3 separate regions of the Homo sapiens genome follow, and all the other regions are linked to region 1. The links come from fine-mapping of genetic effects on gene expression. A gene starts in region 1. Each other region holds a variant in brackets. All regions are shown on one strand. Distances are between the middles of the regions.

What was found.
Region 2: its variant is fine-mapped to the expression of TMEM236 in neutrophils (BLUEPRINT, PIP 0.95).
Region 3: its variant is fine-mapped to the expression of TMEM236 in whole blood (TOPMed, PIP above 0.99).

The regions. Positions count from the first base shown.
Region 1 is chr10:17,745,782-17,756,864 of GRCh38, reverse strand. TMEM236 (transmembrane protein 236) reads right to left here and starts at 4,664. Exons shown (of 4, transcript NM_001098844.3): 1 at 4,313-4,664. The coding sequence starts at 4,569.
Region 2 is chr10:17,718,129-17,729,211 of GRCh38, reverse strand. No RefSeq gene overlaps it. Among named protein-coding and RNA genes, the nearest start is that of TMEM236, 29 kb to the left of the region's middle. The variant A/G (reference allele first, on the strand shown) is at 5,640.
Region 3 is chr10:17,660,814-17,671,896 of GRCh38, reverse strand. All of the region lies in intron 2 of STAM (signal transducing adaptor molecule), which reads right to left. Among named protein-coding and RNA genes, the nearest start is that of STAM, 22 kb to the right of the region's middle. RefSeq lists an enhancer at 54-808. The variant C/A (reference allele first, on the strand shown) is at 7,783.

The sequences.
Region 1 (11,083 bases):
TGGTATACCACATGCACTAAGGGGCAGAAACAAAAGCCTACTCTGTTCCTTAACTCTCAATTGCCCCAGGAGAATGGGACCTTGTCCTTCAAAGAGGCAGTTTGGGACAGTGGCTAGAAGTACCCATTATGGAGTCAGGTAGACCTAGGTCCAAAGTCTGCCTCTTCCACTCTGTCTAGTTCACTGACTTTGGGAGAGCTGCTGAAACTCTCTAATCGGCAATTTTCTCTAGGCAATAATAACGATAAACTCATAAAAATTCTACTTTAGGCTGGGCACAGTGGTTCATGCCCGTAATCCCAGCACTTTGGGAGGCTGAGGCGGGCAGATCACTTGAGGTCAGGAGTTCGAGACCAGCCTGGCCAACATGGGGAAAATCCATCTCTACTAAAAATACAAAAATTAGTCGGGTGTGGTCGTGCACAACTGTAATCCCCACTACTCAGGAGGCTGAGGCAAGAGAATCGTGTGAACCTGGGAGGCAGAGGTACAGGGAGCCTAGATCGCTCCTCTGCACTCCAGCCTGGGCAACAGAGCTAGACTCCATCTCAAAAAGAAAAAAAATACTTTATGAGGTGAAGTAGATATTTCTCTGTCTTTTTGTTTTTCAGAGTTGGGGGTCTCCATCTGTCACCCAGGCTAGAGTGCAGTGGCACAATCATAGATCACTGCAGGCTCAAACTCCTGGGCTCAAGCCAACCTCTTGAATAGCTGGGACTACAGGCGTGCACCACCACATCCTGCTGATTTTGTAATGTTTTGTAGAGACGAGGTCTCACTATGTTGCCCAGGCTGATCTCTAACTCTGGGCTTCAATCAATCCTCCCACCTTGGCCTCCCAAAGTGTTGGGATTAAAGGTGTAAGCCACTGTGCCTGGCCTATGAAGTACGTGTTTCTGTACCACCTCATATCAGTACTTACATGGCACATAATCAGTGATCTATAAAGAATCAATTATAGCCTAATAATAATAACAGTAAGTTATATGGGAAGGTTTGCTGCCTAAATGACATTCAGAATCTAGAGTCTTAGGGATTTGAGTCAATGTGAAAACAAAAAACCAAAATACAAAAAAACCCAAGAGCTTCTTCCTGGGCTGTGGTGGGCCAGTTTCCCATTGGTTTATTCCTGTTGTCATTTGAACCTTCCACCATTCCCTCAAAATTCCAACCCAGCCAGGAATCTTGGACAGTCAAAGCCACCCCTACAGGGTGTGAGAGGTGGAGGGTCAAGCCCAGCTCCAAGCTACCCCTTAGGTGACCCTGGGGCTCTGGTCAAGGTTTGGAAAGCCCCTAAACCCTACTGATAAAAGCAGTGCCAACAACATAATGCTTTATTTCCAGAAACCCCTTAAGACCCCTGCTTTCGGGAAAATGAAAGTCTCCTGGCAAGGTTCGCAGAAGTAGCCACATCTGGGATCGGTACCTAAAGACAGCACCATGAACTTCACATGTCAGCTCTCCATCAGCATCCTCCCAACCTCAGCAATGGTATTTCTAGCTCTATTGCAGAGTCTATTATTTTTACATTTCTGCCCTTGCGTGGATGTGCAAATTCCCAGTGCCTCACTTTTCACATGTGTTCTATGTCATTCGCTTTCAAAATAAAACATCGGCCGGGAGCAGTGGCTTATGCCTATAATCCCAGCACTTTGGGAGGCCGAGGCAGGCAGATCACCTGAGGTCAGGAATTCAAGACCAGCATGGCCAACATGAAGAAACCCTGTCTCTATTAAAAATACAAAAAAAAAAAAAAACATTAGCCGGGAGTGGTGGCAGGACCCTGTAATCCCAGCAACTCAGGAGGCTGAGGCAGGATAATTGCTTGAACCCAGGAGGCGGAAGTTGCAGTGAGCTGAGATCGTGCCACTGCACTCCAGCCTGGACAATAAGAGTGAAACTCTGTCTCAAATAAATAAATAAATAAATAAATAAATAAAACATCAGTATGAAAGAAAAATTAGCTTATATTAACTTATTAAAGAAAAGAGAGAAGTCCAAGATGAGTAAGAATCAGATCTGAAGATCTAAAAGGAAAAATACATTAATATCAGAGACTATTTGTTCTCAATACCCTTATGTGGATCAGTATACCCATTAGCTAAACTGCTAGTTAAATTAACATTAAATCCTGATTTATTTAAAATATCTCTGTATTGTTATTGAAGTACTTTCCTCCCCTACAAGGGTAACAGAATTTACCAACACAGTAAATTATTTATTTTTAAAGTCTAAGTAGGCCAGCTTTGGCAGCTCACGCCTGTAATCTCAGCACTTTGGGAGGCCAAGACGGGTGGATTGTTTGAGCCCAGGAGTTTGGAACCAGCCTGAGCAATGTGGCAAAACCTCATCTTTATAAAAAACACAAAAAAAGTAGCCGGGTGTGGTGGTGTGCACCTGTAGTCCCAGCTACTCAGGAGGTCGAGGTAGGAGGATCACCTGAGCCCCCTGGGGAGGTTGAGGCTGCTGTGAGCAATGATCACGCCACTGCACTCCAACCTGGGCAACAGAGCCACACCCAGTCTCAAAATAAAAAATAAGTAAATAAAAAGTCTAAAGGAACCAGTTGTTTTAAAAGTCGTAGTTAATGGTCAAAGTATGACGTAAGCCTGCAAAATGCAATGTAAATAATTAAAAATAGACATTACTTTCAGTTTTACGCAAAATTAAAATTCTACATTACCATCTTCTGATTATGAGTTGTGTAAGCTCACTCCGATAAGTTTATGTAATTTAGTGTCCAGGAGAATTAAGTCCAACATTTACTACTTAGAATAGCATGAACTGGCACAAACTCCAGTCTTACTAACCCATCTCATGTGTTATTATCACTCAGTATAAATGACTGTAGAAAAATTAAGGAAGATACCATAATATCCATACATTCACAGAAGCAGTAATTGTAGCCTCCCATTAATGTCACATTCTATCCTTACGCTCTGCTCACATCCTTACCCACAGTATGTTAGAACATATCTTTCAGGAATACTTATACACTGTTAGTGGGAGTCTAAATTAGTTTAACCATTGTGGAAGACAGTGTGGTGATTCCTCAAAGACCTAAAGACAGAAATACCATTCGACTCAGCAATTTCAATACTGGGTATATACCCAAAGGAATATAAATCATTCTATTATACAGACACATGCACCCGTATGTTCGTTGCAGTACTATTCACAATGGCAAAGACAGGAAACCAACCTAAATGCCCATCAGTGATAGAATGGATAAAGAAAATGTGGCATATATACTTTATCGAATGCTATGCAATCATGAAAAAGAACAAGATCATGTCCTTTGCAGGGACATGGATGGAGCTGGAGGCCATTACTTTTAGCAAACTAACGCAGGAACAGAAAACCAAATCCCACATGTTCTCATTTATAAGTGGGAGCTAAATGATGAGAACACATGCACACACAGAGGGGAACAACACACACCGGGGCCTTCCAGAGGGTGAACGGTGGGAGGGAGAGGATCAGGAAAAACAACTAATAGGTACTAGGCTTAATACCTGGGTGATGAAATAATCTGTACGACAAATCCCCATGACACAAGTTAACCTATGTAACAAACCTGCACTTAAAAGTTAAAAGTCAAACAACAGACAAACAAACAAATATATCTTTGAAAGCATCACGGGGATTCCCTGCTAAGGAATTCTTTTACAGGCTGGGCGTGTTGGCTCACTCCTGTAATCCTAGCACTTTGGGAGGCCAAGATGGGTGGATCATTTGAGGTCAGGAGCTCGGGACCAGCCTGGCTAACATGAAAACCCCGTCTCTACTAAAAGTACAAAACTTAGCTGGGCATGGTGGTGCATGCCGGTGAAATAATCTGTACAACAAACCCCTAATGACACAAGTTAACTTATGTAACAAACCTGCGCTTTTACCCCTGAACTTTAAAGTTAAAACAAACAACAAACAAAAAAACAAACAAACAAACGTATCTTTGACAGCATCATGGGGATTCCCTACTAAAGAATTCTTCTACAGGCCGGGCATTGTGGCTTCTGCCTGTAATCCTAGTACTTTGGGAGGCTGAGGCAGGCAGATCACTTGAGGTCAGGAGTTCAAGACTAGCCTGGCCAACATGGCAAAAACCCGTCTCTACTAAAAATGCAAAAATAAGCCAGGTGTGGTGGTGTGCGACTGTAATCCCAGCTACTCAGGAGGCTGAGGCAGGAGAATCACTTGAACCCAGGAGGCGGACGTTGCAGTGAGCCAAGACTGCCCTACTGCACTCCAGCCTGGGTGACAGAGCGAGACTCCAAATCAAAAAGAAAAAAAAGAAAATTCTTTTACTTACCATCCTTTAATTTTTCTGTAAATATAACGTTTCTTGTGCAGGATAACTTTTACAGGAACCCAGATCAGTAGAGTCACTAACGCAACATAGGCAATAGAACAGGAGATGATCAGCCAGTAGTGTGTGTTGTCAGATCTAGCCCTTGTTCCTTGGTAGGCGGTGGCAAACTGTTCTGTGATCACGAGTGTGGGGATGGAGAAAGCGGCAAACTCTAGGAGCTCAAAAACCACGAACTTAATGAGCCTTCCAGAAGCCATCCTGAGGAAAAGCAAGCTGCCAAGAACCTGGGACTCCCTCTTTGACTGTGGGCAGCATATGGACCCACAGACACTGAACTGGGATCAAGTTCCTTGTCCTCGAATCGCTAACCAGTGACTTTTTATTCTTTTATTGACCCTCATATGGTTCAATGATCTCCTAACTTAACAACCGTGGTCTCTTAAAGGAACAGGACCATTGTGGAAGTGATCACTCAACATATTTGCACATCCATTATTAGAAGTCAAATGAACTTTAGAGCATGCCCGGGAGCATGGGTAAAAGCAGGGTTTTAAAAAGGTGTTTATTGCTAACGTTAGCACAAAACCATTTGTGTGATAGTCAATTCTTGTTAAGTAAAACTGCTGGAATAATATAATTTTAGAGTTAAAGGGGAATAGATAGAATCCAACCCTCTATTTTTACATAAAAGCAAATTCAGGCAAAGGGAGATACTCAAACCTAAGTCTTCATCTTGGAAAACCATCCCTCCCTTTCAAGTGCTTGAAAAGGGAGTTTGTATTCACTTTATCAACTCTCTAACCAGGATTCTCCCTAATACTTAAGATATTTATTCATTATTGTGCATTAGTTGCCATATAACACAAATTAATGTTATTTTTGTTTTGCTGCACAGGAAACTGAAATGGTGACATTAGAAGCCTGTTATCAAGATTTACACATTAACAGCTATCTGTGACTAGCTCAAATGCATATCAAATGTTTAAAGAATGACAATTGTCTCCATGAATATCCTTCCTTTGAAAAACATACTTGAGACCGGGCATGGTGGCTCACACCTGTAATCCCAGCACTTTGGGAGGCTGAAGCGGGCAGATCACCTGAGGTCAGGAGTTCGAGACCAGCCTGGCCAACATGGTGAAACCTCGTCTCTACTAAAAAATACAAAAATTAAGGCCAGGCACGGTGGCCCACACCCGTAATCCCAGCACTTTGGGAGGCTGAAGCAGGCAGATCACCTGAGGTCAGGAGTTCAAGATCAGCCTGACCAACATGGTGAAACCCCATCTGCACAAAAAACGAAAAAAATACAAAATTAGACGGGTGTGGTGGTGCATGCCTGTAATCCCAGCTACTTGGGAGGCTGAGGCACGAGAATCGCTTGAATCTGGGAGGTGCGGAGGTTGCAGTGAACCGAGATTGCACCATTACAATCTAGCCTGGGCAACAAGAGCGAAACTCCGTCTCAAAAAAAAAAAAAAAAAGCAAAAATTAGAGGGGCGTGGTGGCACATGCCTGTAATCCAGCTACTTGGGAGGCTAAGGCAGAAGAATCACTTCAACCAAGGAGGCTGAGGTTGCAGTGAGCTGAGATCATGCCACTGCACTCCAGCCTAGGCAACAGAGCAAGACACCTTCTCAAAAAAAAAAAAAAAAAAAAGAAAAGAAAAACATACTAGAGCACTTACAATGAGCATTTTAGTATGTGTTAGGGTGTGAAGATGAATGAATGACAGCAGTTCCTGTTCTGAAAGTGCTTGAGGTCCAATGGAGGAGATAAAATGAGGAACCACAACAAAAAACCAAGGCCAGAAGAGTGTAAATGAAGTGCTACAGGGACACAGGTGAACTTCACCTTGCTTCACCTTGGGGTTGTGGGAAGAGGATGGGCACATAAGCACGGTCAGGATGGACGGGGGCACTGTGGTGTCGGTGACATTTCAGACACAGCCAAGGAGGCTGCAGGGGTTAGTGAAAATCTGGTGTGGCACAGCAGGAAACAGGAGGAGGCAATGTTAGAAAAATAGTTTGGGGGCCAGGTGGGGTGGCTCATACCTGTAACCCCAGCACTTTAGGAGGTCAAGGTGGGTTGATAGCTTGAGGAGGCCAGGAGTTTGAGACCAGCCTGGGCAACATGGTGAAACCTCTTCTTTACAAAAAATACAAAAATTAGCCAGGCACGGTGTCGCTTGCCTGTGGTCTCAGTTACTCCAGAGGCTGAGGTGGGAGGATTGCTTGAGCCTGGGAGGTTGAGGCTGCAGTGATCTGTGATCGTGCCACAGCACTCCAGCCTGAGCAACAGAGCGAGACCCTATCTCAAAACAACAACAACAAAATAGGTTGAGGTAAGAATGGCGTGTCCCATTAAGGATTTGGTGGGGGTGTGTAGCCGGCAGTGAAAAAGCAAGGTTTTCTGAACACAGCAGTCCTTTGGTCATCTGGAAAGGAGGTTCAATGCTGATGTGGAGGAAGGACAGAGCAGTGTTACCCTGGAGGCAGGAGTACAGCTGGGAACCAGAGAGGAGCCTGGGCTAGAGGTAAGAGCCCCCTGGCCAACACAAATGGAGCGGGAGTGATGAGGGAGGCGACGCAGCAGCAGACATTGAGCCCCGTCCCTTCTGTGGCTTTCCCTGTACCTGCTGTCACACTGATGCAGACCTGTATTTCTCTAGGCTTCTCTCTCTCAAGGCCCCCGGCAGAAGGGGCCCTGCGCTGCTGGACTTCCAGGGTGCATCGGAGGCTCCTGGTGTGGCCCTGAGGATTGATGCCTTCTGCCCTCCCACTGCCAGACAATTAGTCAGCAGGTTCTTCAAGCCATCTAGTTATGTTATTTGAACTTGGATTTTGAATCCATTGAAGTTTAGCAGAAGTTCTTTCAAGCCAAAGAAGAGACTGAGAGGAACAATGATAAAATATGAAAGGATGGGGTGGAGGCCCATCTGAGCAGCGGTTCTGTCGTCGACTACTTTTTTTTTTTTTTTTTTGAAGCGGAGTCTCACTCTGTCACCCAGGCTGGAGTGCAATGGCACAATCTCAGCTCACTGCAACCTCCACCTCCCGGGTTCAAGCGATTCTTCTGACTCAACCTCCCGAGTACCTGGGACTACAGACATGCGCCAGCATGCCCGGCTAATTTTTGTATTTTTAGTAGAGACAGGGTTTTGCTATGTTGCCCAGGCTGGTCTCGAACTCCTGACCTCAGGTGATCCACCCACCTCGGCCTCCAAAGTGCTGGGATTACAGGTGTGAGCCACTGCACCCAGTTGTCAACTACTTCTAATAACTTATCACTGACATCAATTGTCAGTATCATCCCTGATGAAAATGCCTATTTAAATGATACTGGATATGAATTATATTTTAACCTCCTAACAGTCCATCTTGAGTCACTAGCACTCTGTTGAATCATAATTTCTGCTACAAATTTTGTGTATGAATAAGAATTATTGAGCATTTGAAGAGAGTTATTGAATAGCTTGACTCTGGAGAAAGAAGTCTCTTACCCAGGCCTAAAATTCCATTTTGAATGCTCAATTTTTATTTCCATTTATGAGAATTTAAAACTGGCACTAGCTTTCTATTTCCCGCCTGTAACATTCCTCTGATTCATAATCTTCCTCCACCTTTATTTTTTTAATTTTTTGAGACAGAGTCTCGCTCTGTCTCCCAGGTTGGAGTGCAGTGGTGCAATCTCAGCTCACTGCAACCTCTGTCTCCTGGGTTCAAACGATTCTCCTGCCTCAGCCTCCCTAATAGCTGGGATTACAAGCACCCATCACCACACCTGGCTAATTTTTGTATTTTTAGTAGAGACGAGGTTTCATCCTATTGGCCAGGGTGGTCTCGAACTCCTGGCCTCAAGTGATCCACCCACCTCGGCCTCCCAAAGTGCTGGGATTACAGGTGTGAGCCACTGCTTCCGGTCACCTTTACAAGATTACCCCATGAGTGTTAGCACTCATGTGACGTGACCTGTGACCAGTGTTTTCTACCTCCTGGAATGCCCTGGTCACTGGCTGTGGTTTCTTTAGGAGGAAGGCTGTGATTCTCACTTTCTGCCTGCCACAAGTCCAACTCCATGTAAAGAAACAGTTGCATGTGTTCGCATTGTCCTTTGAACACTTCCTGCGTGCAGATCACGGCAGTCCCTGTTAACTCACGTTCTGCTTAGGGAGATAACACAAGTGCCCCGCAAAGACCCGAGGACACTGGTGGAGTAAGTACTCTGGGCGAGTTAGGACTGGGAAGGGTGACCTGCCCACAGTCCATCTCCCTTCTTCAGCCACATCTTCTTGAATGAATGGGTCCTGGGCCATAGAGTGTCCAGCCATCTATGTGTAGCCTGGCACAAACCAGGTCAATCGGATTCTCACCCTTAGGAATTTGAACTCAGAAACATGGGGAGAATTTGGTAAGTGGAGCTAAAGAAGGTCATGAGTTTGAGTCAGAATTAGAGCAAGCCAAACTCTACGGGCTGGAACCTCCACTCCTGGCATGTTGTCAATTCTATCTGATGAATGAACAAATAGAAGCCAGGCGGGGAGGGAATAGAAGAGTGAGTTGAGCAAGGAACCTGGGAGTGAGAAGGCTAGGACAGATCAACAGGGAGAAGCAAGCATGCCAAGAAAGACCAGTCTTTACAGGTGTCTGAGTTGTTGAACTTTCCAGCTCACATGTGCCCTTACAAAAGGTGGTCTTTCTTCTTTGCTAGAGAAAGGGCTTGAGAATAAGACAAAGGAGTGTGTTTATGAGCAGAGGCCAAATACCATTCAGAAACCCCATGGAAAATTACCAGAAAATACAGGGGAAAGGATGGAAAAAACTCACAGTTTATCAGAGAAGCCTTCTCAGAGGAGGTAAGCTTTGTATCAGTCTTTCTGTTGACTCAAAGCGGTAGCTGTATATTGCTACAGCAATTTTCTCTGTATAGTGTAATAATATTTCCTTTGAAAAATTGTTCTGGCTGGGTGCAGTGAAATACTGCAATCCCAGTATTTTGGGAGGCCAAGGTGAGAGGATTGCTTGAGGCCAAGAGTCTCAGACAAGCCTGGGCAACATGGCAAGACCCTGTCTTTACCAAAAAAAAAAAAAAAAAAATTAAAAATTTAGCCAGGCATTGTGGCATGCACCTATAGTCCCAGCTATTAGGGAGGCTGAGGTGGGAGGATTGCTTGAGCCCAGGGGTTCGAGGCTGCAGTGCACTTTGATTGCACCTGTGAACAGCAAATACATTCTAGCCTGTGGTAACAGAGGGAAACCCTGCCTCTAAAAATAATAATGATTTTTTTCAAGGAAAAATAGTTCTAAGAATGTTCATGATGTAGTAAGATAGGGAAGAGGGTGGGACAGAGAAGCAAGATACAGATACTATGTCTAACAACATCAGTGGTACAATCTTTTTGATTTCAAATATTGTAGTTGTAGGTTTCTACGTAAATTTTAAAATCCAGGAAGATACTTGTCAAACTGTTCACAGGGCTGTCCCTAGAGCATGGGTGAAGTGGGGTGGAGGGAGTTCAATAACAATTTTGTGCTTTTTTTTAAAATCTATCCTCCACCAATTTGATTTCCCTTACTTTATAGAAGCCAAATAATCAAACTGCACTTCAATTATCCTTTTAACGGTAGTACCTAAGAGCAGCGAAATAGTCAAGAGGCAAGCAGAAGACAGGAGACAGGTTTGAACCACTGTTTTCTGGCTGGGCCTTTGGGTGGAATTGGATCATCCTCTCCTGCTTTCATAGGAAAAGGCTGAAAAGGGAAGCTTCATCCTTCTACAGACCCTTGTTTTCTCTCCTGCTCCTCTGTGCAACCTTTTCTTACTCTGCTTTTCCAAGCGGAATTAAGTCATCCCTCCTTTCTCAAAACACCTTTTTTTTTTTTTTTTGAGACAGAGTCTTGCTCCGTCACCTGGGCTGAAGTGTAGTGGCGCAATCTCGGCTCACTGCAACCTCCGCCTCCCAGGCTCAAGCGATTCTCCTGCCTCAGCCTCCAGAGTAGCTGAGATTATAGGCATCAGTCACTATGCCCAGCTAATTTTTGTATTTTAGTAGAGATGGGGTTTCGCCATGTTGGCTAGGCTGGTCTCGAGCTCCTGACCTCAAGTGATCCACCCGCCTCAGCCTCCCAAAGTGCTGGGATTACAGGCGTGAGTCACTGTGCCCAGGCTCAAAACATCTTTTGGATACTTGTAGGGTAGCACAAATGATAAAATGTTCTTATACCATTCATTTACACACTGGGTCCCTCACAAAACCGTGAGCTCCTGGAAGGCAGAGAGCATCTGCTTTTCATCTGTGCATCCTCATTTCTCAGCACAGTGCCAAGCACACAACGGTCCCTTAATATGTATTCCTGGAAAAAAGGAATGCACAAGAGAAGTATAAGAGAAGTGGAGACGGCCAGGCATAGTGGCTCATGCCTGTAATCCCAGCACTTTGGGAGGCTGAGGTGGGCAGATTGCTTGAGCCCAGGAGTTCAAGACCAACCTGGACAACATGGCAAAACCCCATCTCTATGAAAAATACAAAAATTATCTGGGCATGGAGGTGTGTGCCTGTAGTCCCAGCTACTCAGGAGACTGAAGAGGAAGCATCGCTTGAGCCCAGGAGGTTGAGCTATGATTGCGCCACTGCACTCCAAACCTGGGCAACAGAGACCCCGTCCTCCTTCCAACTCAAAAAGAGAGAGAGAAGTGGTGAGTTAGGAATAAAAATTAGAAAAAAAAATTAAAGAAATAAGAATACGGCAGAGAAAAAAAAATAGACAGAAG
Region 2 (11,083 bases), 28 kb after region 1:
CAAAAGACATTAAACAGTAATTCAGATCATGCTACTCAGTTTTAATTTAGTGATGTTTACCACTTGGTCAAAAACAAGCACTAGCACTTCAAAGTTTTAATCTCAAAATATTTCCTTGCGACAAAACTACTAAGACATATTACCTAAACACCGCTCCTTTAGCTTTTAATACCACTATCTTCGTTTAAACTTTGAAGAAAATCCCGAGACCATTTTAAATTACTACGTACATAAAACAAACATTTAGCATAAACCAGGCACTTATTCAATGTTAAATTTTCCCCACTGCAAGCATAAACAAAATCATGTTTCAACAAATATGCTCTGACAAATAAAAATCTGAAGGCTTTTTCTTGCCTTTAAAATATACAACTCAGCACAGTTAAATATCTACAAATGTTGGTGAAAAGTTAAAATAAAAATGTAATTTGCTTCCATCATGCTAAAAACCTTAAGAAAATTATTCTTTTTCAAATACAAGAGAGGCATGAAGAAAAGTAGAAATACTCTACTACTTATCTTAATGAAGGAAGCAAAAGCACGGTAATTTAACTCGTAGCCTAATGTAATTCTATTCTAGCCACTAGGTCTTTCCACATCGAATGCTTATTTAACTTAACCTGAAGAGAATCCACTTGACTGTCTGCCCCTACACCCCATGTAAATTAACATTCAGCAACCAGCTGAATGAAATGAGACTGTTCTGATGTTTTGATATTAAAATACTTCACTAAAATCTATTAGAATCTAAGTGGCTGTTTTTAAAATAAAGAAAAAGGCATTAATTGTATAATCACAGAATTGGTATTTACTATAAGAATTCTTTTTTTCTTGTTTTTTGGTAGAGCCCGACCAATATTCCTTTCTGTGACCATTCTTACAAAACATTAGCAAAAAATAGCAAAAAAGATTTTAAAAGGTACCTGTTTACAAAGGGAGACAACACACAAATCTGATAAACAACCGGAAAAGTTTGTCTTTCCCCCTCAACAAGTATAAAAGCCTTATCCAGTTTACTTAGTACTTGAAGTAAGCCCCAACTTCTTCATCAGATTCCATTAAATAATATAAACTTTAAGGAAAGCTTTTTAGATGCCAGCATGGTATCTAATCTTCTAAAGTGCAAATAGGAAAACTAAAAACAAGTATTCTTTATTTGTGGAATTGTTTTATAAAACTATATAAAATAATAGATAAATTTAACTGACAACACAAGAAAAAAGCCGATTTTAAAAAAAAAAACAACCTTCCTTGAATTTAATGTCTACTTTAATACTTATTTATATTAATAACTTGTAACTAAGCAGTATATAATGGCATTTTTCTAGGCCAAATATTTGTGATGCAAAAAAAAAAAAAATCACTGCTGGTTTTGCACCTTACTTGGTAGACAATTTTAGCCAGCACAAAAGATGGAAACTACTAGTTTCCATAGTACTCTAGCATCTCAGCAATACAACAGCTAAAGAACGGCAAGTGTAGTATACTGGTGACATTAACATTTTCAGTTCACCAAGACCAAGATGCCACTTTGCATACAAGAACATCAAGAATAAAATTTCATGTAGTCTGATGCTACTTACCTCCTTTAGTTTGAAGCAGTATACAAATACAGTATCTGTCCCAGAGTTACAACTATTTATTTTTCTGTTTTCAAATCAACACCAATGAAAGTTAAAGTACTATGGCTGAAGCGCTTCTACTTGGAATGCAGATGTTCCTGATAAAATCACTCAGAACAAAAGGCTCACCAGATACGAATGGAGATAAAGTACCCCCAGGTTACGTTCAGAAAGTACACTGCTATAACTACATGCTAGAAATCATGCACCCAAGTTTCAGTACCATGGTACCCAGGTCCATTCAGTGACATAGGTGAACTATTCAGGCTGAATGGCAGGGATAGTTAAGGTAGGCAGAGGTAGATGATATGAAACAGAAAATTTATACAAGCTACAAAAGATCATGTTACATTAGCCTTACAATGCATAAATAAGTAGACGACCCAGAAAGATACATGGAGCTGCCCCAAATCACATATCTACCAAGATATTCTTTTGACAAAAGATATACCTGGATTAAAGTCTAGTTCTCTGAATTCCTACAGCCATGAGCTGAAATTTCCACTTAATAGCAGAATGGACAAGTAAATTCCTACAACTTAATTTAGTTCTTATTCTTATCTTCAACCCCAAATACCATCACCACTATCCACCCCTTTCTTTAAAAGAAATCCACGTACTCACAAAAGTATGATACATTTACAATACAAATTAATGAAACCATTTTTTCATGAGCCATCCACCTTTTATAGAAATGAACTTGTTATAATGGTTCCTCTAAGTGAATTTACCTGTATTCCTGATTACAACTTCTTCAGTCATTTTCAGCCACTCCTTTACAGGGTATTATGTTTTTAAATTACAGAATATCAAAGATACTTATATCAAACCCTTCTTTTCTCTGGAGAAATAGAAACAAATTCTGAAACAGTAAACAGATTTTTTTTCCATTTTTGGTTCAGAGAAAAATAACCATACATGGATGTCTCACGTAAATTTTCCTATTTTGCATCTTACCTGGCTAACAGACAATATCACCTATAATTAACCGAAAACATTCTTAACTGTTTATACAGCATATCTTTTTCTAAAGTAACAAGATAATGTGATCACCCTGCAGTTAAGAAACTTGATGTATCCTGCCATAGAAACAACTGATTACAAACATTTATTCTACTTTTTAAATGCCATTAACCAACTGAAACAAGTCCCAAACTAGTTCTTTAATAAGCTGACGGCATATGTTACTGTAATGTGCATGTGTTTCAAAATTGACTGTGTTTATATATTTTATTCAGTCTGCTTCCAATTTAGTTACCAACTTGAGGAAAATAAGTAACAATGATAACTTTTAAAAAGAAAGGGCTTTCCCTCCCCTTCAGTGATTTCCCTATTTTAACAGAAGGTTATGACTAGGGTCATGAGAAGTCTTTCAAAACAAACGTGCCAAAATGTTTGCATCTAAAAACATAGAACTCTATTTGCTGGTTACATTTCTAGAGTTACCTAAAAGCCATCCAGAGTGAATAAGGTGGGTATTGAACAAATGGAGAAAAGCTGAGTAGGGTTTGAATGGGGAAAGGGCACAAATTTTCTGCAGCTTCTCTGAATGCAATTCAAGATGAAGAACATAAAAGTGTACTGAGCTACGGCAGCATCAATGGCTTGAGGATACAGGCTATCACAGAGCAGCTACATGTTAGGGTTAACAACGTTCCTTTATGTGTGCAGCTTCCGATGCAAGCCTGAAAAATCTAATCTGATTACCTCTAACCAGAACTCATCTGGTTCTGACGTAATTCTTTTAGGAATAAGTACTACAGTAGAGGCAAAGAGAATAGAGCATCAAGTCAGAAATCCAGAACGTAAGAAATTCTACGATACAACTGGCAGGGGTGTTTAAAAAGTCAATGTCGTGGAGCATCAGGGGGAGATGACAAGATTAACCCAGATTAGTAGAGAATCAAAGGACATTAGAAGTGTGGGTATATATTCCTGGAATGGATCCTGGATTTAAAATATATACATATCTATAAAAGACAGTTTGAGGGACATTCAATAACAATATATTACAGAATTACTGTTAATTTTCTTAGATGTGAAAATGGTTTAGGTTATGTGGGAAACTGTCCAAATCCTTACAAGACGTAAGATGAAGAACTTAGAAATATGGTTTACAATGTTTATAATGTGTCAGTTCACACAATAAAGTATGTGTGTATATACATAAGAACACTCCTATATATATATATGTATACACACACACACGTGCATATATAAACATACACGAGATAAAACAAACGTGGCAAATTTTTAATGATTAGCAAATCTAGATGAATAGTAATTAGATGTTCAGTGTTATCACTCTTCCAATCTTTCTGTAAGTATGAAAATTTCCCAACAATTTTTTGAGAAAGTACCACTTAAAGTAACAGATACTTACTTCAAGGGACCAACTTAGTAACATTCTACATCCCCTGCCTGTTTAATCTTAGCCTCTCAACAAAGTGGTCTCCAAATCAGGTTCATACATCCTAGGGCACAGAGAAAACAAACCACTAAGATATAGAAAGAAAATACTTAAATTTCTATTAATAACTTTTTATCTCACCCTTTTAAGATTTCTATTTTTTGGTGTGTTTCATAATGTACAATATGCTTTTATATAGTAGAACTTGTAAAATTTGTGAATAAATATATATACATATTTTTAAGGCTACACACTCAAAAAATTTGTTACTCATCAGGGTATCTAATCAAAAAATTTGGATACTACTCTTCTATAAAACAGACATGACTTTTGCTAAGTCTCTGACCACCAAAAGACCATTAAAATCAGTCCCTTTTGCTTTTATCCAGGGGTTTACTGACTCTTAATAATTTATTATCAGAAATTCTAGGTGTAACAGCAGCAGCAAAAAGACAGTAATGACAGTGGTAAGTGTTAGCAGATGCCAGGGAATCAGAGAACTGGCAAAGTGTAGTTTGGCCACAAGTTAGCACCAATAAAATGTTCAATTTTGTTCATCAAGGAAATCTAGAGTTTTAAATACTGAAATACTGAGATTTAAAGTGTTCTAGAACATCATAGGGAAGAGCATTTTTGAAGCCTGGAAATTTTCAGAAAAAGATACTATCAAGTACTAAGTAATTTCGAAAGAAGACCATTCTAAGGAAGAATACAGATAATACAATGAAGGCAGCTTTGCTTAAAAACGTGGGCGTGTGGTGGGCATGTCAATATAAAGAATACAGAAAACAACCTAGGTAATTGATAAGAACACTTAATGGAATCATGATGCTAAAATAAAAGATAATTGAACATAAGGCCTTTGAGAAATATTTAGGTAAGTTTCTTCTATATATTTTATTCTAAGGCGTACAAGTAGTTAATCCAAAAAAAGAAATAAAAAGGAAAACGATACAAGTGAAAACTTTATAAACCATAGCTTTGTTATTAAATATTTTTAAAATGATGTAACAGAAGGCAAGCTATAATTATTAGAACTGGAAAGTAAACCAAGAAAATAGATGAGAAAAGAAAATGATGACTTCACTGTATATTAAACAGATGAAAATTTGAGCAATTATACCAATAAATTTCATTTTGGAAAATAATTTCCATAATTTTTTTATACTTTAAGTTTTAGGGTACTTCTGCACAATGTGCAGGTTAGTTACATATGTATACATGTGCCATGCTGGTGTGCTGCACCCATTAACTCGTCATTTAGCATTAGGTATATCTCCTAATGCTATCCCTCCCCCCTCTCCCCACCCCACAACAGTCCCCAGAGTGTGATGTTCCCCTTCCTGTGTCCATGTGTTCTCATTGTTCAATTCCCACCTATGAGTGAGAATATGCAGTGTTTGGTTTTTTGTTCTTGCGATAGTTTACTGAGAATGATGATTTCCAATTTCATCCATGTCCCTACAAAGGACATGAACTCATCATTTTTTATGGCTGCATAGTATTCCATGGTGGATATGTGCCACATTTTCTTAATCCAGTCTATCATTGTTGGACATTTGGGTTGGTTCCAAGTCTTTGCTATTGTGAATAGTGCCGCAATAAAC[A/G]TACGTGTGCATGTGTCTTTATAGCAGCATGATTTATAGTCCTTTGGGTATATACCCAGTAATGGGATGGCTGGATCAAATGGTATTTCTAGTTCTACATCCCTGAGGACTCGCCACACTGACTTCCACAATGGTTGAACTAGTTTACAGTCCCACCAACGGTGTAAAAGTGTTCCTATTTCTCCACATCCTCTCCAGCAGCTGTTGTTTCCTGACTTTTTAATGATTGCCATTCTAACTGGTGTGAGATGGTATCTCATTGTGGTTTTGATTTGCATTTCTCTGATGGCCACTGACGGTGAGCATTTTTTCATGTGTTTTTTGGCTGCATAAATGTCTTCTTTTGAGAAGTGTCTGTTCAAGTCCTTTGCCCACTTTTTGATGGGGTTCTTTGTTTTTTTCTCATAAATTTGTTTGAGTTCATTGTAGATTCTGGATATTTGCCCTTTGTCAGATGTGTAGGTTGTGAAAATTTTCTCCCATTTTGTAGGTTGCCTGGTCACTCTGATGGTAGTTTCTTTTGCTGTGCAGAAGCTCTTTAGTTGAATTAGATCCCATTTGTCAATTTTGGCTTTTGTTGCCATTGCTTTTGGCTGGAGAGGCAGCCAAGATGGCCAAATACGAACAGCTCTGGTCTACAGCTCCCAGCGTGAGCGACGCAGAAGATGGGTGATTTCTGCATTTCCATCTGAGGTACTGGGTTCATCTCACTAGGGAGTGCCAGACAGTGGGCGCAGGACAGTGGGTGCAGCGCACCGAGCGCGAGCTGAAGCAGGGCGAGGCATTGCCTCACTCAGGAAGTGCAAGGGGTCAGGGAGTTCCCTTTCCTAGTCAAAGAAAGGGGTGACAGACGGCACCTGGAAAATCGGGTCACTCCCACCCTAATACTGCGCTTTCCTGACGGGCTTAAAAAACGGCACACCAGGAGATTATATCCCGCACGTGGCTCAGAGGGTCCAACACCCACAGAGTCTCGTTGACTGCTAGCACAGCAGTCTGAGATCAAACTGCAAGGCAGCAGCAAGGCTGGGGGAGGGGCGCCTGCCATTGCCCGGGCTTGCTTAGGTAAACAAAGCAGGCGGGAAACTCGAACCGGGTGGAGACCACCACAGCTCAAAGAGGCCTGCCTGCCTCCGTAGGCTCCACCTCTGGGGGCAGGGCACAGACAAACAAAAAGACAGCAGTAACCTCTGCAGACTTAAATGTCCCTGTCTGACAGCTTTGAAGAGAGCAGTGGTTCTCCCAGCACGCAGCTGGAGATCTGAGAACAGGCAGACTGCCTCCTCAAGTGGGTCCCTGACCCCTGACCCCTGACCCCCGAGCAGCCTAACTGGGAGGCACCCCCCCAGTAGGGGCAGACTGACAACTCACACGGCCGGGTACTCCTCTGAGACAAAACTTCCAGAGGAACGATCAGACAGCAGCATTCGCGGTTCATGAAAATCTGCTCTTCTGCAGCCACCGCTGCTGATACACAGGGAAACAGGGTCTGGAGTGGACCTCTAGCAAACTCCAACAGACCTGCGCTGAGGGTCCTCTCTGTTAGAAGGAAAACTAACAAACAGAAAGGACATCCACACCAAAAACCCATCTGTACATCACCATCATCAAAGACCAAAAGTAGATAAAACCACAAAGATGGCGAAAAAACAGAGCAGAAAAACTGGAAACTCTAAAAAGCAGAGCACCTCTCCTCCTCCAAAGGAACGCAGTTCCTCACCAGCAACGGAACAAAGCTGGATAGAGAATGACTTTGACGAGGTGAGAGAAGAAGGCTTCAGACGATCAAACTACTCCGAGCTACAGGAGGAAATTCAAACCAAAGGCAAAGAAGTTAAAAACTATGAAAAAAATTCAGATGAATGTATAACTAGAATAACCAATACAGAGGAGTGCTTAAAGGAGCTGATGGAGCTGAAAGCCAAGGCTCGAGAACTACGTGAAGAATGCAGAAGCCTCAGGAGCCGATGCGATCAACTGGAAGAAAGGGTATCAGTGATGGAAGATGAAATGAATGAAATGAAGCGAGAAGGGAAGTTTAGAGAAAAAAGAATAAAAAGAAATGAACAAAGCCTCCAAGAAATATGGGACTATGTGAAAAGACCAAATCTACGTCTGATTGGTGTACCTGAAAGTGACGGGGAGAATGGAACCAAGTTGGAAAACACTCTGCAGGATATTATCCAGGAGAACTTCCCCAATCTAGCAAGGCAGGCCAACATTCAGATTCAGGAAATACAGAGAATGCCACAAAGATACTCCTCGAGAAGAGCAACTCCAAGACACATAATTGTCAGATTCACCAGAGTTGAAATGAAGGAAAAAACGTTAAGGGCAGCCAGAGACAAAGGTCGGGTTACCCACAAAGGGGAAGCCCATCAGACTAACAGCAGCTCTCTCAGCAGAAACTCTACAAGCCAGAAGAGAGTGGGGGCCAATATTCAACATTCTTAAAGAAAAGAATTTTCAACCCAGAATTTCATATCCAGCCAAACTAAGCTTCATAAGTGAAGGAGAAATAAAATACTGTACAGACAAGCAAATGCTGGGAGATTTTGTCACCACCAGGCCTGCCCTAAAAGAGCTCCTGAAGGAAGCGCTAAACATGGAAAGGAAAAACCGGTACCAGCCGCTGCAAAATCATGCCAAAATGTAAAGACCATCGAGGCTAGGAAGAAACTGCATCAACTAACGAGCAAAATAACCAGCTAACATCATAATGACATGATCAAATTCACACATAACAATATTAACTTTAAATGTACATGGACTAAATGCTCCAATTAAAAGACACAGACTGGCAAATTGGATAAAGAGTCAAGACCCATCAGTGTGCTGTATTCAGGAAACCCATCTCACGTGCAGAGACACACATAGGCTCAAAATAAAAGGATGGAGGAAGATCTACCAAGCAAATGGAAAACAAAAAAAGGCAGGGGTTGCAATCCTAGTCTCTGATAAAACAGACTTTCAACCAACAAAGATCAAAAGAGACAAAGAAGGCCATTACATAATGGTAAAGGGATCAATTCAACAAGAAGAGCTAACTATCCTAAATATATATGCACCCAATACAGGAGCACCCAGATTCATAAAGCAAGTCCTGAGTGACCTACAAAGAGACTTAGACTCCCACACATTAATAATGGGAGACTTTAACACCCCACTGTCAACATTAGACAGATCAACGAGACAGAAAGTTAACAAGGATAACCAGGAATTGAACTCAGCTCTGCACCAAGCGGACCTAATAGACATCTACAGAACCCTCCACCCCAAATCAACAGAATATACATTTTTTTCAGCACCACACCAAACCTATTCCAAAATTGACCACATACTTGGAAGTAAAGCTCTCCTCGCCAAATGTAAAAGAACAGAAATTATAACAAACTGTCTCTCAGACCACGGTGCAATCAAACTAGAACTCAGGATTAAGAAACTCACTCAAAACCGCTCAACTACATAGAAACTGAACAACCTGCTCCTGAATGACTACTGGGTACATAACGAAATGAAGGCAGAAATAAAGATGTTCTTTGGAACCAACGAGAACAAAGACACAACGTACCAGAATCTCTGGGACACATTCAAACCAGTGTGTAGAGGGAAATTGATAGCACTAAAAGCCCACAAGAGAAAGCAGGAAAGATCCAAAATTGACACCCTAACATCACAATTAAAAGAACTAGAAAAGCAAGAGCAAACACATTCAAAAGCTAGCAGAAGGCAAGAAATAACTAAAATCAGAGGAGAACTCAAGGAAATAGAGACACAAAAAACCCTTCAAAAAATTAATGAATCTAGGAGCTGGTTTTTTGAATGGATCAACCAAATTGATAGACCACTAGCAAGACTAATAAAGAAGGAAAGAGAGAAGAATCAAATAGATGCAATAAAAAATGATAAAGGGGATATCACCACCAATCCCACAGAAATACAAACTACCATCAGAGAATACTACAAACACCTCTACGCAAATAAACTAGAAAATCTAGAAGAAATGGATAAATTCCTCAACACATACACCCTCCCAAGACTAAACCAGGAAGAAGTTGAATCTCTGAATAAACCAGTAACAGGCTCTGAAATTCTGGCAATAATCAATAGCTTACCAACCAAAAAGAGTCCAGGACCAGATGGATTCACAGCCGAATTCTACCCGAGGTACAAGGAGAAACTGGTACCATTCCTTCTGAAACTACTCCAATCAATAGAAAAAGAGGAAATCCTCCCTAACTCATTTTATGAGGCCAGCATCATCCTGATACCAAAGACTGGCAGAGACACAACCAAAAAAAGAGAATTTTAGACCAATATCCTTGATGAACATTAATGCAAAAATCCTCAATAAAATACTGGCAAACCGAATCCGGCAGCACATCAAAAAGCTTATCCACCATGATCAAGTGGGCTTCATCCCTGGGATGCAAGGCTGGTTCAATATATGCAAATCAATAAATGTAATCCAGCATATAAACAGAACCAAAGACAAAAACCACATGATTATCTCAATAGATGCAGAAAAGGCCTTTGACAAAATTCAACAACCCTTCATGCTAAAAACTCTCAATAAATTAGGTATCGATGGGAAGTATCTCAAAATAATAAGAGCTATCTATGACAAACCCACAGCTAATATCATACTGAATGGGCAAAAACTGGAAGCATTCCCTTTGAAAACAGGCACAAGACAGGGATGCCCTCTCTCATCACTCCTATTCAACATAGTGTTGGAAGTTCTGGCCAGAGCAATTAGGCAGGAGAAGGAAATAAAGGGTATTCAATTAGGAAAAGAAGAAGTCAAATTGTCCCTGTTTGCAGATGGCATGATTGTATATCTAGAAAACCCCATTGTCTCAGCCCAAAATCTCCTTAAGCTGATAAGCAACTTCAGCAAAGTCTCAGGATACAAAATCAGTGTACAAAAATTACAAGCATTCTTATACACCAATAACAGACAAACGGAGAGCCAAATCATGAGTGAACTCCCATTCACAATTGCTTCAAAGAGAATAAAATACCTAGGAATCCAACTTACAAGGGATGTGAAGGACCTCTTCAAGGAGAACTACAAACCACTGCTCAAGGAAATAAAAGAGGATACAAAGAAATGGAAGAACATTCCAAGCTCATGGGTAGGAAGAATCAATATCGTGAAAATGGCCATACTGCCCAAGGTAATTTATAGATTCAATGCCATCCCCATCAAGCTACCAATGACTTTCTTCACAGAATTGGAAAAAACTACTTTAAAGTTTATATGGAACCAAAAAAGAGCCCGCATCGCCAAGTCAATACTAAGCCAAAAGAACAAAGCTGGAGGCATCACGCTACCTGACTTCAAACTATACTACAAGGCTACAGTAACCAAAGCAGCATGGTACTGGTACCAAAACAGAGATACAGATCAATGGAACAGAACAGAGCCCCCAGAAATAATG
Region 3 (11,083 bases), 85 kb after region 1:
TAAATTAATAAATGATTTTTAGACCAATCAACTTTTCAAAATGAGGATATCACCTCTTCATTATCCCTCTCTCAGGACATAACAAAATAACAGGGTATTTGCCTAAAAGTATTGCAAATATAAAAGAAAAATGATCAAAACAAAAATTATCAATAGCAATAATAAAAAACATGGTTAACAAATATGTTTGCATGGTTAACCTCTAATAACCTATGTCAGACTAAAAACGTACAAGGACACTAGTGAAAGACTATCTGGCATGTTGCATCCCTGATCCCTGCTAGTTACTACATCAGTAACATCAGTAGTAACCCGCCTGTCATGGGACACCTGAAACCATCCCTAATGGAGCAATACCACCCAGGCTGAAAACCATTACTAAACAAAAGAAGCATTGTGATACAGTAGAAAAACGATTTGAAGCTTTGACAGACCTCATCTGTAAAAGAGGAGATGTCTAATACCTCCTTATCAGAATGTTAATACAAAACTCCTAGACTCATGCCAGGGATTTAGAGACTCTCAACAATGTTAGTTCTTGAAAGCACAAAAATGTTTCATTTTTTATCTTTGCTTTTACAACTGTAGCTTTCAAAGTTATTTTAGAGTGATTTAAACATTACATCTTCATCTAAAATGCTACAAAAAAAGCTTTACTGTGGTTTACCATTCAAGGACATATGTACGTCTATATTGGAGGAAGGAGGAGTATGTGCATGCATAGCTTTTATAGGTCTTAGTATACCAGGACCTAGCAGACACACAGCAGCTAAAAGACATGGGAACTCAAATCTTTGCTGAATGAACTAAATATTTTTAGAAATTAAGAGATAATATGAATGCTCCTTGAATACTGAGTAGAGCCTTATTTAGATGCCTTTCATAAGCATGAAGGCATGTCACAGACTGTAAGAGAATTCTAATATAAAAGTACAAAAGAAATCACAACAGAAATAATGCAATCTTTATATACTGAACATATTCAAAATGCAAATTTGATTTGTAACATACATTACATAAAACATAATCCACACAACATATAAAAGGAGCAAAATATAGAGTACAAATATCAAATTATTCCCTTAATGTTAAGCTTATTAAGTAGGCATTTCTTATGAGATAATGGAACGTGAATATAAATATATACAGTGATGTTATTTGACTATTATTTAACAAACATGTTCATGTAAGTCCCAAAGGACTTCATTAGAAAAGCAGATAAACTAAACTTCTACATGCTGAACTAAAATATTGAGGATTAAATTCAGTACGATGATATTTTGAGTTTTCTAGACCATGTAACACTAAGGTATATTTCAGTCAAACAAAACACAATGTAACATAACGTATGGGGAGAGAGGAATCACCAAAAACTTTAATGTAAGATTGGTATGTCTTGATTCATAATTTTAACCTTCAAATATAACTGCTCATACAAGCACCTAAGCACACAGCACAGTGAAGGTAGAAAAAAACATAAAATGGGAAGTAAAGAAATCTGACTTCTAATTTTGCCTCTGCTCACTCGTTTTAGACAAGTCACATTAAAAATCTCAGGGCTTTAGTTTTCTCATCTGCAAAACAAGCACAACAGTCATCAGAATTCTATAAGTCTCATTCTATAAAATATACGATGTTTTTAAGACTTAGTAAAATAAAAAAGTAAAATCATTGTCTAGGCAAGTAAAGATAGAAAAATCAGCTCGCATCGGATCCCATTCCCTATTGCCTAGTCAACAACTTGACTTCTGTTGTTATCCCAATTCTCTCCTGAATCATCATCTCAATTTCCCCCTCAAAGTGCATCATTCTCTTCCAGATACACAGATGCTATAATCCCGTCTACCCTTTAAGAAGGGAAATTCCCAGCTGGGCGCAGTGGCTCACGCCTGTGATCCCAGCACTTTGGGAGGCCGAGATGGGCGGATCACGAAGTCAGGAGATCGAGACCATCCTGGCTAACATGGTGAAACCACGTGTCTACTAAAAATACAAAAAAAAAAAAAAAAAAAGAAAAGAAAAGAATTGGCCGGGCATAGGGCATAGGGGCGGGTGCCTGTAGTCCCAGCTACTGGGGAGGCTGAGGCAGGAGAACGGTGTGAACCTGGGAGGCGGCATTTGCGGTGAGCTGAGATTGCGCCACTGCACTACAGCCTGGGTGACAGAGCGAGACTCCATCTCAGAAAAAAAAAAAAAGAAAGAAAGAAAAAGAAGGGAAATTCCCAATCAGTGAAAGAAAAACCCCACTGAAACAGCAGCAAAAAGGACAAAATACCTCAGACGAAACATTACAAAAAATGTACAAGACTTTTAAGAGGAAAACTTAAAAACACTACTAAAGGTTATAAACAAAAAGAGATGCTATGTTCTCGGATAGGAAGATTTAATATCATAAAGACATAAATTTGTTAATTTAAAACTAGGCCAATTTAAACAGAAAGTTTTGTTTTTAACCCAGCCAACTCAATTTGAAAGTTTATTTAATGAGAGTAGGAAGGGGAAAGAATATCTAAAACAACATTTCCGGAAAAAAAAAAAAAAACCTCAAGACCATATCCTACCAAATGTCAAAACATATTAATAATTAAAACCATGTGGTAGCAGAATGTGTTTAGACACATACCAACGGGTCAAAAGAGAAAAACAGACTTAAATACATATGCAAATATAATATATAAAAGAAATATTTCAAATCAGAAGAAAAAAAGATGGACGATTCAGTAAATGGTGTTGGGATATTTGGTAGCCAAATAGAAAAGAATAAAGTTAGAACCATACTTCATACTGCCTAACAGGATAAATTCCAAATAGATCAAAGACTTGAATGTAAAAAACAAAACCATACTGAGACTGTGGGGACAGTCTGGTGGCTTCTAACAAAGATAAACAGTCTTACCATATGATCTAGCAATCATGTTCTCACATATTTACCCAACTGAACTTAAAACGATGTCAACACAAAAGGCTGCAAATTCATGTTTATAGCAGCTTTATTAAAAATCACCAAAACTGGGAGCCAACAAGATGTCCTTCAGTAGGTTAATAAACAAACTGTAGAACATCCATATAATGGAAGAGTATTCAGCAATAAGAAGAAATGAACTACTGAGCCACGAAAAGGCACGTAGGAACCTTAAATGCATACTGGTAAGTGAAAGATGCCAGTCTGAAAAGGCTATATAGTCTACGATCCCAATTACACAACATTTGGAAAAGATAAACTTGTAAACAGTAAAAAGATCAGTGGCTGTTTAAAGTGCAAAGAGAGGAAGGAAAGGAATGAACAGATGGAGCACAGGTCATTTTAAGGTGATAAAACTATTCAGCATGGTACTGTAATGACAGATACGTGGCATTACACAATGGTAGACACATGTCATTATATACACTGTCAAAACCCATTGACCTGTACAAAACAAAGTGTACCTTAATGCAAACTATGGACTTTAGTTAATAGTAATGTATCAATATTGGTTCATATCTTGTAACAAATATATACACTAATGAAATATGTGAATAATTGGGGAAATTGTGTCGGAGTTGACCTCTGTACTATCTGTTCAATATGCATTATGCTAAGCAATGTGCATTCATTTCCCTTGCCTCTTCCAAACCACTCTCCCTCTTTCCTAAAACTGCCCAGCTCCAATCACGTCAGTCCCCTCATGTTGCAGTTTATTTAAAAATCTCAAATGCCCCTTCACCTGTCAATTATTTTAGCTACTGGATCACTGCCTCTCTCTCCAACATCACTCCTGTCCTAATTCTTGGAGCTTTTAATAACAGTGTAAGTGATGCTTTCAACACTTTGGCTTTTCAACTTCTATCACATCTTATTAACTCCGATGGACCTTGGAGTCATCAGACCTTGTCATTACCAATAACTGAAAACCCTCTATAGTTTTAATTTAAAGGATCCTACCTTCCAACCATCATCTTCTATTTTTCTAACTCACTCTGAAACCCAGCTCTGCGCTCATTCAGGGCAACTGACTTCTGCTCCAGCTACTCTGTAACTTTCAAGTTCTTAGAAGGCATCAAGTTTTCTCTACCTTGTAGCATTCAGCATTCACCTACAGACTATTGCTTCTTTCTGGGATGCAGTGCTTTGAACTCTGTCTCTTTTCAACATTAAAATTATAGCATAAACGTAACCCCCTCATACCAGTCTACCTTTTTATTTTCCATTATAGCACTCTGGTTACTAGCTTCTTAGCTATTGACCATCATCTGTTAGTATCTGTTTATTTCACATCTTCCACCATTAGAATATTAGCACCATTGACGGCAAAGGCTATGCCTGCTTTATTCACCACTGTATAGCCAAAGCATGATATTTGGCATTCAGTATTTGACAAATAAAAGAAAAAATGACGAACGCAAAGAGAATGAAACGAATTAAAGAAATTCTGCCATGTTACGAAACTGAGTGAAACATGGAAATCAAGATCACGTTTTAAAAAAAAAATTCTATGGGCTGGATGCGGTGGCTCACGCCTGTAATACCAGCACTTTGGGAGGCTGAGGAGGGCAGATCACAAGGTGAGGGGTTCAAGGCCACCTGACCAATACGTTGAAACCCCATGTCTACTAAAAATACAAAATAGCCGGGCATGGTGGCGTTCACCTGTAATCCCAGCTACTTAGGAGACTGAGACAGGAGAATCGCTTGAACTTGGGAGGCAGAAGTTGCAGTGAGCTGAGATCGCACCATCGCACTCCAGCCTGGGCAACAAAAGTGAAACTCTGTCTCAAAAAAAAAAAAAAATTATTTAACTCTGCTGGAACACTTCCGCTATTTTAAGTTATATAAAAGAATCCTAAATATCAATTAGATTTCTCACTTGAAAGTTGAGAGAATCTACAGTACCTAGAACTGCTGTGATAATCAAACAAAATGTTCATAGGGCACTGTAACAGAGTCTAGCAAACAATAAGTAGTCAATAAGTGACGATTATTCTTAAAAGAGCATTTAAAAGACTTTGATGATAAAGTCCTGTAAAATGAGGATATGATTATAGGAAGAAAAAAAGACTTGAAAGAGGTCTGTTTCTCTACTGATGCTGTCCTTTCAACTCTAGAATATCCAGCTCAGAGATTATTTTTCCCTTACAAAAATCAGGAAATATTCTTTCAACTTCCTACTGAAGGCCGGAAATAGTCACAGTCCAGTCCAGGACAAAACAATACAAAGCCAAAGGCCAGGCAGGGTGGCTCATGCCTGTAATCCCAGCGCTTTGGGAGGCCAAGGCGGGCAGATCACAAGGTCAGGATATCGAGACCATCCTGGCTAACACGGTGAAACCCCGTCTCTACTAAAAATACAAAAAAAAATTAGCTGGGCATGGTGGCGGGTGCCTGTAGTCCCAGCTACTCAGGAGGCTGAGGCGGGAGAATGGGGTGAACCCGGCAGGCGGAGCTTGCAGTGAGCCAAGATCGTGCCACTGCACTCCAGCCTGAGCAACAAAGCAAGACTCTGTCTCAAAAAAAAAAAAAAAAAAAAAAAAATACAAAGCCAAGGAAAAACATTTTTAACAAACTCCTTCCCAAAGGCTTACATTTGTATTTTTCACAAAACACCAATAATGACTATCATATGATCTTTCTCATTCTGTTAGAATAAATTTAGTACCAAAACATATCCATTAGTCGGGTAAAGAAAAAGTTACATGATGTTTTCCACCTTTAGTCAACTATATCTTTGGCTAAAGCTAAGCAAAGACAGTTAACATATAAAATAACAGCAAAACTTAATCTAGAGGTCAATTACAGAACTTTAATTTTAACTTGTTATTGAAGATAATCAGTATTTATCCTCACGTCTATGTTTACATAAATATAAACAAATCAATCAACACTAACATAGAAAAATTATTTATGTGAAGACATGTTAAAGAAAACGGCTATTATCATTGTGAAAGTTCTCTTGATTTCTAAACAAATGAAGGCTGTTCAGCCCATCATATGACCTAATTGGCTGGGCATTCTTCACTAGTTACTCACACACTGGAAATTGCGCAGTAGAAATCATGTGAATATCTTGAGACGTTAGAAAAAAATTTCAGAATGTTTGTTAAAGTTTTAGGTTTGGTATAATCAAGTATTTCAAGATTTAAAAAGAAACTACAACTTAAATGAAGTAAACAGGGATTACATCTAGTAGGCTTTCTGAAATTGAGATAATTACTAAAAATTACTAATTTTCATTCAGTAATTATGTATATGTGTTAGATATTCTACATGCCACTAACCAAAATTAATGTTAAACTAGAAAATAATTTCCAAATTTGTCCAATACTAATAGACTTAAAAGAAATACATTTCTAAGACTGACAGGATACAATAAGTAGTCAATAAGTAACGATAAGTAATTAAGTAATAAATGCAGAAGAATATATACAACATTCTTATTACATGTAAATGGGGGGAAAATGTATTCACATTTGTGTAAAAGAATGGAAAGATACAAAATTTACGTAAGTGGTAACTTATAGAAGATGAGAGCAGCGAAACAGGGATAGGAATTAGACTTGTCAATGTCCATCTTTTTAAATTGTTTTAACATTTGAGCCATGTGAATACATACTTATTTTTAAAAGAAATAAATACTTTATATAATCAACAAACATAAATATATATGCATATGCATATGTATATGTGAGTTTAAAGAACAGAAAATGGGTTTGTCTGGTTTTTTCCTTTTTAAGAGAAGGAATTAAGAAAAATTTTTCACAACACCACTGAGAGCCATGTTTCCTGGTCACAGTTCTGACTAAATGAAACTTCACAATAATAGCTCTTTTCTCCCCCTTTAAAACCTAAGAATATTTTTCAAACTACCATAATTCTAAGACAGATGACTTTAAAAAAAGAAGCCAAAAGAGAAAAAAAGGTTAAAATAATATGAATTATTTCATTTTATTTATCCTCTAAATGATTCTACTATATATTACTAGTTACAAATCATTTTGATTTAAAAAATACAATATTACTGAAAGTGAAATGCTCCTCCTAAAGTCCTTCCACCATCTCTGAATCTGTCCTCTTAAAAAGATCGCCGCACTTTACAAAATTTCAGGCTAACACCAAATAGCAATAATAATTTTTTTTCTAAATCTAGATTGTTGCCTGAAACACAAATCACTTCTGAACTGCATTCCAATCTACAACATTCCTCTACTTCAAAAGACTCTACCTGAATTTGTCTTTGGAAAACTCATGTCCTCTTTTCCCTCTCAACCCACTTACATGTTATAGTCTTCTCTAAAGCACATCAGGTATTTAGAATACCTCAATGGCAGCCTACAATACTGTTCAACATTCTTATGCGACCATCAGCAACCCATATCCAATCACAGTTTCCTCCAAAACATAAACCAGATTTCTATAAGTTGTCCATATATACTAATTATAAAATAATTTAAAATATTAAAGGCAAACTACAAATGTTTAAGAGGAGCTGGAGGAAAGGGGGATGAGTTATTGTTTAATGGGCACAGGGTTTCAGTTTGGGATGATGGATAAGTTCTGGAGACAGACAGCGGGCATGTGAGTATACTTAATCCTACTAAAGTGAACACTTTAAAATAGTTAATTTTATTGTATATATAATTTACCACAAAAATAAAAACAAATAACATATTAGGAATGCCACCATAAGTATCCCACAGTTTAGTGCTCACCTGAAAGAAACCTAAAATTTTCTATTACTAAGTTGATCTGTGAATATGTAACCCAATTCTGTAAACGCTTATGCATGTAGGCACAGGGCCTAGGACTCA[C/A]AATAATTTTGGAAGTACACGTAAATGTTTTATTTCTTTTAAAACAAGAAGAAAAAAGTGAACTTTTGCTTCAAAGAAAATGTTTTAATATATAATACTAATATATTTTTCCTTAAAACAATGTAGTCATAAAATATTTTTAATTTTTTTAATAGAAAGAGGAGCCCAAGAAGACAAAAGTGCCTAGGGCCCAGGAATGTCCTAATATGACCCTTATGTTTACCATTTCCTAATATGAGATTATCAAGGGAGAACAAGAAAGAAAAAACACAACTGGAGATGTATGTTAAACAGTATTATTGAAAGAAAATACATACATGAGCAATTATTGAAGGCCTGACATTTTTTTAAAACCTCAATAATATTAGAATGGTATCTCAATTATTGTTTAATCCTTTTCAAACAACTCTTTATTAACAAGAGGTATAACAAGATATCCCATTTATGCACACAATAAATGCTTGAAGATTAACTTAATGGGGATTTAAAAGAACCAGAGAGCAATAACTATTAAAGGAGTCAAAACTAAGTGAGTAAGTGGGAAGAAAAAAGAAGAAAAAGGAGGGAAGGAAGAAGAAAAGGAAAAAACACTGACTAAAAGAACAAACAGATCCACCTTCATTATCGAATTCACTGAAGTTGAAAATATTTCCTAAGTAAACTCATAGACTTAGTATAATGTCAATTAAAATCCCCAACTGACAATTCAAATATTAAGGAATATACTGAGAGAAAGTATGTAGTTTAAAAATAAATATGAAAAACTAAAAAAAATGAGCATGTGTCTAAACCTATTGATACTGGATAAAAACAAAAAGACAAAAAATATTTTTAAAGCTATAAATTAGTAAATTTCAAATATGAAAGGAAATAAAATAGGGAAAATAATAATAAACATTTCTGGGAGAATAACGTTAACATTAAGAAAAACAAATTGATCTCTACAGCTTTGTGCTACAACATACAGAATTTCAGATGCATTACAAATTGATTTTTTAACTGGAAAAACATGGAATATTTATAGTTGTAAAAGGGGGTTTGCCTTTTGACAAACAACTTCAAGCAATTGACCCAATTATTACAGAAAGCGTCTACAAAATGAAAAACACCGAAGTAAAGATAAAAAGGAAACCAACAAAGTGAAGAGAGAGAGGAGGGGCTTTGCAGCTGCAATGCTAGATAAAACTTTTATCTCCAAAATGCACATGAAGTGGTCTAGCTTGGTGCCCAGTCTTCAACAGAAACTGTCACAAAATATGACTTCAATCAAAAGCAGGCAGAGTTGCACTCATTCAGCCATGTGCCAGGTACTGTTATAAACACTTGATAAAGCTAATCTCAAAGTCACAACAACTCCCCTATGAAGATGATACTATTATTATTCTTAGGTGGTAAACTGGAAAAGTAAGGCCCAGAAAGATAAGTTACTTACCCAGTATGACATAGCTAAATGGCTAGAGCCAAGATTTGAACCCAGGCATTCTCCCTCTAGAGTACATGATCTCCACCACTAAGCTATTTGCTTCTTTCCCATGTGCAACAGAAGTTCATGGACCATTCATTCTACAAATCTACTAGGTTTATATCTAAGAAACTTCAGTTCATTAGATATAAGTTACTAAAATGCAGGAAAAAACACAAATAAGAATAGTTTTGATAGAGTGCTTTGAGGATTCAGAGGATCATACCATTGTCAGTAAAGGGGATAAGGAAAGGCTTTGTGGAAGAAGTGGTATCTACATTGGGTCTGAAAGGATATGAGACACAGAGATGGGAAATTAAAGAGGAAAACATTCCATCCTCAAGAAACAAAAGGACCAAAAGCATCAAACTAAGGTAGAAAAAAAGCACTGGAACTCAGATAGTTGAGCTGAAATGAATGTTATACAGGAGGGAAAAAAATGAAAATGCATGATTCAGAAGACTAAGGAGCTTAAACTGAACTCAGTATGGAAGGTAGGGGAGTAACATGAACACAGCTGTTATACGGCAACTGGATATAAGAATTAGAAAAGAGATGGAAACAGAAAAAAAATGCCAGTGGGTTAATTCGCTAGCCTAGGCAAGGTAAGGAACGTCCAAAGTAAAGTAGGACAAATAAAAATGGAGAAAAGGGAACGCGATATGTAACACACAGTAGTTAAAAATTTTCAATTAAATTAATGAACCAGGTCAGAATATACTAAAATGTAAATACAACAAAGGGATGGATGGGACCACATTTGGGAGATTCTTTGGGAACGTCATAGTGGGAGGACATTATGGGCCAAAAAAAGCTAGAGTGGAGGGTATACAGCCCCTGAAGAAAACTGCCTCTGCACCATTTGGCTATGCTCAAAAACTTGATTAAGGAGACTTTAAAACGTCAACATTTTGAGAGATTATGAAGGCAGATGGACAGAATTGAGTAATAAATGTGAAGGTGACTCAAGTTTTAGTGCAATGAAAGAATCATCTTGTCATTAATAGAAATGGAAAAACTGAAAGAAAGTAGGTTTAAAACAAAAAGAGACAGGAGTTCTGGTTTCTAGATGGTGAGATGAAGGCTTATATAGAACGATATCCAGAAATAATGCAGTGTCCATAAGACTAGTGCTTGAGTAAGAAGAGCTGCAAATACAGATGCCATCTACATAAAGACAGCTGGAAGTTGTGAGACCAAAAGAAAAAATCTTAGAAATAAAAAATGAATCAGGGAAAGTTTCAGGAACATCTATATTTAGGGGTGAAGGAAGAAGAGGCAAAGAAGACACTGGCAAAGGCTTCATATTACCACTGCAAATATCAAGTGTAATGCAGCAGTGCTTCCTAATCTTTTTCACATGAAAGTGCACAAATAAGACAATACCATTTGTGTGGCATAAAGCAGTAAATGAAACTGCTAAAGGCTAATGCTGTTAGCCCAGGAGCTGAAGAAATCACCCATATCCACACCAATTAATCCAATTACTGTACTGTTTGGAAAGCTCTGTAATACATGCCAAAAAGTTTAAGATTCTATTCCCCTAATCTTTCAACAGAAAGAAAAAATTTCTTTTCAATTCCACCTAACTGATTCATTAGGTGGAATGTTGCAAATCTGACAAAGGAGAAAAGAACTCATAAATAACCATGAAACTTGGTAACTGAGAAATCACTAATAACTCTAAAATCAGTGGAAAAAATGAGATTCCAGAAGAAAATATGAAGGAGGGTGATTAAAGCATCAACTTTTTACCAGCCATGTTACCCTAACTGGTTAAAAGGTATATAAACTAAATGAGATGATTCTTCAAATCTTTTTAATAAAAATATTCTCTTT